2 separate regions of the Homo sapiens genome follow, and region 1 is linked to region 2. Evidence: fine-mapped expression QTL. A gene starts in region 2. The other region holds a variant in brackets. All regions are shown on one strand. Distances are between the middles of the regions.

What was found.
Region 1: its variant is fine-mapped to the expression of HASPIN in skeletal muscle (GTEx, PIP above 0.99).

What each region holds. Positions count from the first base shown.
Region 1 is chr17:3,693,217-3,698,579 of GRCh38, reverse strand. P2RX5 (purinergic receptor P2X 5) reads left to right here and starts at 2,425. Exons shown (of 12, transcript NM_002561.4): 1 at 2,425-2,711. The coding sequence starts at 2,575. P2RX5-TAX1BP3 (P2RX5-TAX1BP3 readthrough (NMD candidate)) reads left to right here and starts at 2,176. Exons shown (of 15, transcript NR_037928.1): 1 at 2,176-2,711. RefSeq lists a silencer at 2,196-2,555 and enhancers at 2,676-2,725, 2,838-3,354, 4,325-4,374, 4,775-4,824. The variant G/A (reference allele first, on the strand shown) is at 2,830.
Region 2 is chr17:3,720,525-3,725,887 of GRCh38, reverse strand. HASPIN (histone H3 associated protein kinase) reads right to left here and starts at 1,985. Exons shown (of 1, transcript NM_031965.2): 1 at 1-1,985. The coding sequence starts at 1,952. It overlaps ITGAE (integrin subunit alpha E), which reads left to right. Exons shown (of 31, transcript NM_002208.5): 27 at 2,144-2,200; 28 at 2,505-2,600. It also overlaps a transcript of P2RX5 not described here. RefSeq lists an enhancer at 1,300-2,055 and a silencer at 1,925-2,084.

The sequences.
Region 1 (5,363 bases), 27 kb after region 2:
CAAAGGTTTGATGAATCAAGAACAGCAGAGTGCCTGGGACTGGGGCTAGTGGTAGGCTCTGCTCTGGGGCCTCACTTACTCACCCCTTCCCTAATCACCCCAGAAAAATGAAGGTCCTGGTCTCTAAAGACCCCTTCAAAGAACAAACAGGCCCTGGAACAAAACCTGGAACTCCCTTGGGGAGTGGAGAGACTCAATGTGGCACCATCTCTGTGACACTCATGTTGTCCTGTGCTGGGGTTGATGGGCAAGCTCTTCTCCAGGGCAGATGCAATTCAGGCGACTCCTGTGAGACTCTGAAAGTCCACCTCCCCTCTATACCTTACCCTGGAGCAGCACTGTCAGGGTGACGGGCATCTTCTTAGGGGTGATGTCACTCGGTGGCGGCTGCTTTAGTGAGCATTGGAGTGCTGTGTTAGCAGGGGGCTGAGGAGGAGGCTGGCAGGAGAGCCAAGATGACTTCAGCCCCTAAAATTCGCAGTCATGACTGGGGCAGGGTGGAATCGAAATGCCCTCCCTGTTGAAAAAAAAAAAAATCAGGGCCAGGTTTGTCCACTCATTCAATAATATGTCTAGAACTATTATGTGGCAGGCACAGGGACATACAGAGATGTCCAAAGGCATGGTCCCTGCTCTCCGGGAGCTTCTGGTCTTAGCATGGGACACAGTCACTAAGTCAACGAGATCCTACTGGATAGTGACAGGTGCTCTAAGGGAATAAGATGAGATAATGGGATAGAAAGTGGCTGGGCTGGGACTGGGGGCTACTTTGGGTGGGCAATAATAACAGGCCTTTTTGAAGAAATGGCAGTTGAGTTGAAATGGATGAAAAGATGCAAAGATCCACGCTTTCCCAAATGACAGTTTGAGAGCAAAATACAGGTTCCCAGCCCCATCTTAGATTTCGTGAATGAAAATTTGAGGGGCAGGGCCTAGGAATTTGCCTTTTTTTCTTCCACATGATTCCCATGCACTTTGAAACTGGACACCTTCCTTGGGGCTTTTACTTTAGAATCACACTGATGAATTTCAGGGTACCTTCCAGTTCCCCGAGTCTGTGGCTTAGGGAAGGGAGCCTCTTTGTGTGTGAAAGCCAGGGGTAGGGAGAGGAGCAGGACTGCTTGTGGTCAGACTGCAGGATGCAGAAAATAAGCGTGCGCAGCTCCTCACCACACCGCGCTCACCCAGGGCCCTGCGTCTTTGGCTGTCAGGAGTTCTAAACCTGCCCCCCCGGAGGCCCTCCCTCATCCCACTCCCACTCCTGTTGAATTCCACATACTGAGAGGGTTGCAGTCATAGCTGCATGGATCAGTTCTATTTCTTGTGCGTTGGGAACCATTCCAAACAGTTGGTACATGCGCACTCTCCAGGCATATTTTTAGGATCCTAGGGTGGGTTGCCTGTGTCTCCCCGCCCCCACCCCGTCTGCCCCCCACCCCCGCACCATCCGCCCTGAGTGTGGGAGGGAGGTCTTCATGCTGCCGGCACTCGGGACCTGCCTGACCACCGACTCCGCCGGAGTGTGGGCTTTTAAACCTGCAGCAGCTGCTGCAGTAGAAACGCGCATTAGTCGCAGCAGACACAGGCAGCCTCAGGTGGGACAAGTCTTGTCTCTTCCAGCCTGTGGGGGAGCCACGGCTTCCCCCCCACAACCACCCCCTGCCCACGGAGCAAGAATGTATCTCCCTGGCAGGAGACCTGGCGCGAGGTGAATGGAGAAACCTGTTGTGTCCCCTTCCTTCCTCCCCTGGCCTCAGTTCCCCATCTATTCAATAGGAAGAACCCTTTGGGATTTCTTTGCGAGAGAAAGGGGAGTTTTGCTTTAAACGGAGCTCTTCCCGGCCGTGCGCGGTGGCTCACGCCTGTAATCCCAGCACTTTGGGAGGCCGAGGTGGGCGGATCACCTGAGGTCAGGAGTTCAAGACCAGCCTGGCCAACATGGTGAAACCCCGTCTCTACTAAAAATACAAAAATTATCACGCCTGTAGTCCCAGCTACTTGGGAGGCTGAGGCAGGAGAATCGCTTGAACCCGGGAGGCGGAGGTAGCAGTGAGCTGAGATCGCACCACTGCACTCCAGCCTCGGCGACAGAGCGAGGCTCCGTCTCAAAAATAAATGAATAAATAAATTTAAAATAAAATAAAAAGGAGCCCTTCCCCCTTTCACTTCCTCTCCTCCGCGATCGCTGCTTTCAGCTGGGCAACAGCACAGGGCGGTCCTGCGCATCCGGGGGGCTGCGCTCCCAGACCGGTGGCTGGGGAGTAGGTTGCAGGGGTGTCACTGTGTCAGGGGAGGAGGAGGAGGAGGAGGAAGAAGAGGTAGCGGCAAGGTCGCGGTCTGAGGTTCCGGTGCTCGCCGCCGCCCAGCTCCCAGCCGAGGCTTTCTCAACCGCGTCAATAAAAGGCCGCCCCGACCCGCCCCCGCGCCCCGCAGCCCTGCCGGACACCCCGGGCTGCAGCTGAGCGGGCGCAGACGGGCCGAGGCGGGCGCCGGGCGCGCAGGGACCGAGGGACCGAGTGCTCCCCATGAGCGCACGTGGGCCGGGCGGTCCGCAAGCCCGGCTGAGAGCGCGCCATGGGGCAGGCGGGCTGCAAGGGGCTCTGCCTGTCGCTGTTCGACTACAAGACCGAGAAGTATGTCATCGCCAAGAACAAGAAGGTGGGCCTGCTGTACCGGCTGCTGCAGGCCTCCATCCTGGCGTACCTGGTCGTGTAAGTTCTCCGCGGACTTTTGGGAAGGCGGGGGAGGGGCAGGGCGGGTGCCAGCCGCCGCGTCCTTCTCCAGGGTCCTGGAATTCGCAGGCGTGCACGCGGTTTTCCCGGTAGCTGG[G/A]GGTCTGTGAGCCTGCTTGCTGTGGGGGTCCTCTTTGGGTCCTTGGGTGTAGGAGTAGGGTGTAGAGAGGGGGCTCTCCACTCCCCCACTGGCGCTAGAGGTGATGAGAGGTGGGCAGGGGCCTTCTGGTTTCCTCGATTTATCAGGCTTTCCCTGCAGCTGCTTCTCCCAGAGTCGGGTCCCCACGTGTTAGGGCCATGGGAAGGGGGCAGGGATGCCAGGGGGCTGGGTGGCAGCTGTCGCCCCAGGAGCCTCCCTGGGCCTTGGCCTGGCAGCTGACCCAGGCGCCGGCAGGTTATTTATAATCACAGGGTGTCACTGCCTACTCAGAGCTGGAGAAACTCATCAGCCCGGCATGTTCCTGAGCTCCCTTCCGGTCAACTTGCCCCACCCGCGGCCAGCCTCTCTGGTGTCCAGCTGGGGGTCCTGCCCAGAGGCCTCTATCTCTGCACCCAGCTCGGCCATCCCCTTCCCCCATCCTCATGCCACCTGGCAGGAGCTGGCGCCACAAAGCCAAAGAGGCAACTTGTGGAGGCTGCTCTGCCAGGCGCCTTCAGAGCCCTGACCCCGGGGTGGGTCGGGGGTGAGCAGGTGGAGGGGAGAAGCAGCGCTGGACAATGGGGATGCGCCTCATTCCACTCGTTCAGTAAATGCGGTGGAGTTCCTCCTGCTTCCTCCTGGGAGGGCAGCCCTGACGCCTGGCTCTCCCTCGGAGGTCCAGCAGTCCGCGTTCTCTGAGCTGCATCCCCAGGCCCCTGGCCGCCTCCCACCTGAGCGGCCTCGTAGGCGCTGTGCTGTTGCTCAGCCAGGCCTGCCCGTCCTCCTCCACTCCCTTAGCATCCACTCAGCCCCCAGATCTGGGCTTTCCAGTAACTCCCTCTCCCTTCCTCCCTGGCCTTCCCACAGTGTAATTATTGGGCTTATTTGGGGGATCATTTGCCTGATGTCGCTGTCAGTCCGGGAATGCCCTGAGGGTGGGGCCCCAGCAGCACTTAACTGCTTAGGGAATAGATGTGAAATGAACGCATGAATGAATAAATGGAGTTGCTTTTGCTTGAACAATAGAAATTTAATTCTCGCAGTCCTGGATGTGGAAATCTGAGACGAGGGTGGTAGCATGGTTCGGGGTCTCAGGGGGGGCTCTCTCCTTGGCTTGCAGATGGCCACCCTCTCGCTGTGTCCTCACATGGCAGGGAAAGCAGGACATATTTAACTAAGTACAAGTATGAAAATTAGGAAATTGGCGGCCGGGCGCTGTGGCTCATGCCTATAATCCCAGCCCTTTGGGAAGCCGAGGTGGGTGGATCACCTGAGGTCAGGAGTTCGAGACCAGCCTGGCCAACATGGAGAAACCCTGTTTCTACTAAAAATACACAACAATTAGCTGGGCATGATAGTGGCGCCTGTAATCCCAGCTAATCGGGAGGCTGAGGCAGGAGAATCTGTCTCTATGGATTTGCCTATTCTGGGTATTTCGTATAAATGAAATTGTATAGTATGCGGCCTTTTTTTTTTTTTTTCTGGCTTCTTTCACTTGGTGTCATGTTTTCAAGGTTCACCCATGTTGTGGCATCTATCAGCCCTCCATTCCTCTCTGTGGCTGATACTATCCTGCCGTGTGGGGCTGCCACATTGTGGTCATGCATTCATCAGCTGATGGACATTTGGGTGGTTTTCACACCGCTGAGTGTAGTGGCTCATGCCTGTAACCCCAGCACTTTGGGAGAGGAGACCGCGGTGGCTGGATCACTTGAGGTCAGGAGTTCAAGGCTAGCCTGACCAACGTGGTAAAACCCCGTCTCTACTAAAAATTCAAAAATTGGCTGGGTGTGGTGGCGAGCGCATGTAATCTCAGCTACTCGCACCAGTGCACTCCAGCAGCCTGGGCAGCAGAGCAAGACTGTCTCAAAAAAAAAAAAAGAAGAAGAATGCTTCTGAGAACATTCATGTACAAGTTTTTTGTGAACATGTTTTCAATTTTTCAATTTTTAATTATTATTATTATTATTTTTGAGATGGAGTTTCGCTCTTGTTGCCCAGGCTGGAGTGCAATGGCATGATCTCAGCTCACTACAACCTCTGCCTCCTGGGTTCAAGAGATTCTCCTGCCTCAGCCTCTGGATTAACTGGGATTACAGGCATGGGCCACCATGCCTGGCTAATTTTTGTATTTTTTTAGTAGACACGGAGTTTCACCATGTTGGTCAGGCTGGCCTCGAACTCCTGACCTCAGGTGATCCACCTGCCTTGGCCTCCCAAAGTGCTGGGATGACAGGCGGGAGCCACTGTGCCTGGCCATGTTCTCAATCTCTTGGGAATTTTCTGGCTTATCTGGTAACTCGATCCTTAACCTTTTGAGGAACTGCTAAACTGTTTTCTACCATAACTACCTCATTTTACATCCCTATCAGTGATATACGGGGGTTCTAATTTCTTCACAACCTCATCAACACCTGTTATCTGTAGGGTTTTTAAAAAATGATAGCCATCCTAGTGGAAGTGAAGTGGTGTTTTATTGTGGTTTTGATTTGTAT
Region 2 (5,363 bases):
TGTAAGTCTCGGTGCTCAAAGCGCAGTGATGCCTCTGCCACTGCGAGGGAGGCTGTGAGCTGGTGTAGAATGCTCTTTGCAGTAGCCAAGGAAGACAACTTGGTTCGCATTTGCTCTAAGTCAATCCCTCCAAACTCAAATTCCAGCACAATGAAGAGCTGGTCGTCTTTAAAAAAATCAGGCCGGTCATTTGCAGAGCCTTTGGTTGAATTATAGTGATCCCAGGCTTTGAGGAGCAAGGGAGGGTAAGATCCCTGGACACAGTGCACTGAGTTCAGCCCGATAAAGCCTTCTGTGCGGTTGCACACTTCACCGGATAAGAGGCTCAACTCTTTGGAGATGATGATCTCTGGCAGGATTTCCTCAAAGGTTTTCTGATGGGATCCATTGACTAAATCTGGTCCTTCAATAGCAATGATTTTTATGGCTACGGGTGTGTGATCAGCAATTGTTTGAAACACTTCGCCAAACACCCCTTCCCCAATCTTCTCACAGCGTTGCAGTTTTTCTGTGGGAAGGCAATGGCTAAAGGGGACAGGACCCTTCTGACTGCATTCCCCATAAACCTTTTCAGCATCAGATGCCTTTTTGTTTGAAATACTTAGAGTGTTTAAGGGGCTTAGCAAATACATAGAGGAGGAGTGCCAAGAGGACGGAGCACCACTTGTTCTGTTCATGACAGGCCGGTTTGAACATTCTGATAGGAGGGATCCAGAGAGAGAAGTGGCAGTGGTATAGATGCTGCAGACCTCTGACACATCAGTCACAATTTTCTTCTTGTGGAAACTGAAGGAAGCCCTGGTTTTGGTCCAAAAGCAGACATTCTGTAAAGGAGTCAGGTCCTGGGTGGGGAACGAATCTTTTCCCAGCTTTTGGCCCTTTTTAAAGCGGTGGGAATGGAGGAGAGAGGTTTCCGTTGCCTCCTGATGTTTGCTCTTCCGGCTTGATCTAGTTCTCTCCAGCCTGTCTATTCCCCTTGGCACAATGCGGCCCTTGGGAACACTGGCCTCCTGATGCTCTCTCCGGACGGCCTCTTGAAGCCCTCTCTCTTGACAAGAGTCCTGGCCTGTGGCCCTCCTCTTGCCTGTGCTTGACAGACCTGGACCCTCTGGTCCATTTCCCACCACCAGTTTCCTTTTACAGCAGGACTCTCTCATATTCTTCCCATCTGCCCGAAACTCAGAATCCTCAGGGGTTCCTGAGTTCATAAGGCCAAAGAGAACTGACCTGAGGCTGGCGCGGGTTTGGTGGACCATCCTGGTGTCCTTGGCTCCTCCTGTCGCTTCCTCCTGGGAGCAGGGGAGAGATGCTCGGTCCAGGGAGACTTCTGGGAGGTGGAGGCCGCTCGGGACGGCTGAGGCTGCAACCAGACAGGCGGAGGTGCCGATCGAGATGACACTGTCCCTTGGCGTTGGGGACCCGGGGCAGGGCGAGGCCAGAGAGCTGAACAGGGAGGCACTGATGCCCAGCTCGTCGCCGTCCCTGGGCTGGCCGCACACGCTGAGGTCCGGGCTGAGGCGGCCGGAGTCGCGGCTGGGGAAGGGCGGAAGTCGGAGCGGGCCGCAGGGTGTGCTGCACTTCTGCGGGGGCCGAGCTCGCAGCCCCAGGCGTCTTGGGGTCACGGTTAGGCTTGGGCGAGCTCGCAGCTTCCAGCGCTTTGGGGTCACGGTCAGGCTGGGCCGGTCCTTGGGCACTCGGCCGCCGGGACGCCTCCGCCGCCGCCTCACCGGGCTGCCGGGGAAGTCGGGGTCGTCGGGATCGTCAGGATCGTCGGACTGCGAGGGGTCGCCGATGCTGGCGTCGCTGCTGCCGCTGCTGTTGAAGAAACGCCTCCGGTCCTGCGGCGGGAACCACTGCGCGGCTTCCCGGCCCGGCCGCCGCTGTCTCCTGCCGTCCGCAGCCCCATATGTGCGGAAAAGCCGGCTCCCAGGTCCCGGGAGCGAAGCCGCCATGGCCGGCACCCGCCAAGAGGTTCAAACGCAAACATCGCGAGACTTCCGTGCGACGCGGACGCGCCCGCCTGCCGCGGGGTCCTAGCTCCCGGCCCTGCGCATGCGCACCTCGCCAGGGCCGGGGCCGGGACGGGACGGAAAACTGGCGGCTTGGTTTGTTCAGCGCGTCGCGGTCATGGCTCTCGTTTCAGGCCTCCACGGTGTGCACCTGGAGTCAGGAGCGCGCTTGTGCGTACAGTTCGGTTCAGGTAAGCGCGGCCGTCCCGAGAGGCCAGGGGAGGGCGGAGGGCCTGAAGCGGGTAACGAGAGGCCAGGAGACTGTTTTTCCTGGGTTACCCCTGCCGGCCAGTGCCGGGGGCTGCCAGGCCCTCCCTAGCTTCGTCCCTGGGTCTCAATTGCTCCCGCTGGAGCTTCGCTTGGGCCGAGGTGAGCGCTGAAATTGCTCACACCCTCTATTCTGGGACCTTACGATGCTCTGTGTCCGAAGTGTTAAAAAGATTTCAGACTTTCCGCACGGAAAGGAATTGTGTTCACTAGACCTCGCTTTTCCAGCATGTGGAAGAATGGCATTCAGTGAGCTGTGTCATCGCTTCAGATAAAGAAAATGTCACCGTGGCTGCAGAGATCTCCTGGGATCACTCTGAGGAGGTGTTTGAGACTGAAATGCTCCAGATTTGATTATCCAGTTGCTCACGGGCATCGCCCCTAGAAGAGATAATAGCATCTTTGCATAACATGTCCATGTCCAAAATAGATCTTTTGGTGCAAAAAACCAACCCTCTGTCCCAACCCGTTCCTTAGCTACCCTCAGGAGGGAGATATACTCCAGTTACAGTACAAGGAACTCGAGGGATTACCTGTGACTCCTCTTTCCTACATCCCCACGTCTATTCCAGCAGCAAGCCCTGCCATTTCAGGGCCAAAATATATCCTAAACCCATTCACTTCTCTCCATTTCCACTGCCGTTGTAATTCAAGCTACCCTTTCTTGCCAGGGCTGTTGCAATAACCTTCGGCCTGCCTTTCTTGCCTCTGCTTTTCCCACATTCTTTACAAATAATTCCCACGTAACAGCTATCCGTCTTCTAAGAGCAGACATTAGATTGTGCCATTCCCCTGCTTATTAAAAATAACAAACAAACAAAACTGATGCTTGAGCACACTTAGACTAAAATCCATACTTTTTTCATGGCCAGAGCAAGGCAGTACTTGATCTGGTCTCTGCTTAATTCTTCAACTTCATCTCCTAGTACTCGCCTTTCTCTCCCACTGCCCCTTTTATAATCGGGTTATTCTGTCCTATTCTTCTAGCTCGCCAGTACAGCATTATTCTGGCCACAAGACTTTGTACTTGCTGTTCCTTTGCTTGACACTGCTCTTCCTCTAGGTCCTGACGTAGGTGGTTTCTTCTTAAATTTAGCTCAGGTGTTCTTTTCTTTTTTTTTTTTTTTTTTTTAGATGGAGTCTTGCTCTGTCACCCGGGCTGGAGTGCAGTGGCACGATCTCTACTCACTGCAACCTCCGCCTCCCGGGTTCAAGTGATTCTCCTGCCTCAGCCTCCCGAGTAGCTGGGATTACAGGCGCCGGCGACCACGCCCAGCTAATTTTTGTATTTTTAGTAGAGAGGGGGTTTCACCATGTTGGCCAGGCTGGTCTCGAACTCCTGACCTCAGGTGATCGCCCGCCTCAGCCTCCCAAAGTGCTGGGATTACAGGCGTGAGCCACCGCACCCGACCTAGGTGTTCTTTTCTTTTCTTTTCTTTCTTTCAAGACGGAGTTTCGCTCTTGTTGTGCAATGGCACGATCTCGGCTCACTGCAACCTCCGCCTCCCGGGTTCAAGCGATTCTCCTGCCTCAGCCTCCCAAGTAGCTGGGATTACAGGTATGCGCCACCATACCCGGCTAATTTTGTATTTTTAGTAGAGATGGGGTTTCTCCATGTTGGTGAGGCTGGTCTTGAACTCCTGACCTCAGGTGATCCGCCCTCCTTGGCCTCCCAAAGTGCTGGGATTACAGGCGTGAGCCACCACGCCCGGCTAATTTTGTATTTTTAGTAGAGATGGGGTTTCATCGTGTTGGTCAGGCTGGTCTTGAACTCCTGACCTCAGATGATCTACCCACCTCAGCCTCCCGAAGTGCTGGGATTACAGGCATGAGCCACCACACCCGGCCACACGTGTTATTTTCTTAGAGAGGCCTTCCCTGATCACTTATTCTAAAGTGGGAACTAGTGATCAAGTGATCAAGTTTAATGTTTTACAGTGATCCAGGTGACATTTGTGAGGTCTCAACTGAAGAAGTAGCAATGGGGGTGGAAAAGAAAGGGACAGATACAAGAAATAATTTAAAAAAAAAGAATTGTGAGTGTGGTGGCTCACATCTGTCATCCCAACACTTTGGGAGGCTGAGGCGGGAGGATTGCTTGAGGCCAGGAGTTCAAGATCAGCCTGGGCAGCATAGTGAAACCCCATTTCTTAAAAATAAATAAATACATAAATTAGCCACGCATGGTGGCTCATGCCTGTAGTCCCAGCTACTTGGGAGGCTGAGGCAGGAGTATCGTTTGAGCCCAGGAATTTGAAGCTTCAGTGAGCTATGATTGAGCCACTCCATTCCGGCCCGAGTAACAGAGTGAGACCTTGTCTCAAAAAAAAAAAAAAAAAAAAAAAAAAAAAGGAAAAATCTCTTACGTTAAATAAAATGAATAAGCTGGGTGTGGTGGCTCATGCCTGTAATCTCAGCACTGTGGGAGGCTAAGGTGGGTGGATTGCTTGAGCCCAGGAGTTTGAGACCAGCCTGGGCAACATGGTAAAACCCCATCTCTACAAAAAATACAAAAATTAGCCCAGTGTGGTGGGGTGCACCTGTGGTCTCAGCTACTCAGGAGACTGAGGTGGGAGGATCACTTGAGCCTGGAAGGTTGAGGCTATAGTGACCCATGATCATGCCATTGCACTCCAGCATGGGTGACAGAGCGAGATCCTGTCTCAAAAATAAGTCAGTCAGTCAAGAACTGACTTTGGATGGCACAAGGGAAAAGAAGTTGAAGAAAAGGCCAGGCGCGGCAGCTCACGCCTGTAATCCCAGCACTTTGGGAGGCCGAGGTGGGTAGATCATCTGAGGTCAGGAGTTCGAGACAAGCCTGGCCAACATGGCAAAACCCCATCTCTACTAAAAATACAAAAATTAGCCTGGCATGGTGGCACATGCCCATAATTCCAGCTACTCGGGAGGCTAAGGCAGGAGAATCGCTTGAACCTGACGGGGTGGAGGTTGCAGTGAGCCGAGATCGCACCACTTCACTCCAGCCTGGGCGAAAGAGCGAAACTCCATCTCAAAAAAAAAAAAAAAGGAAGTTGAAGAATAACTGCAGATGTCTTGTTTGGGTAACTTTATGTAGTGTTGTGTACG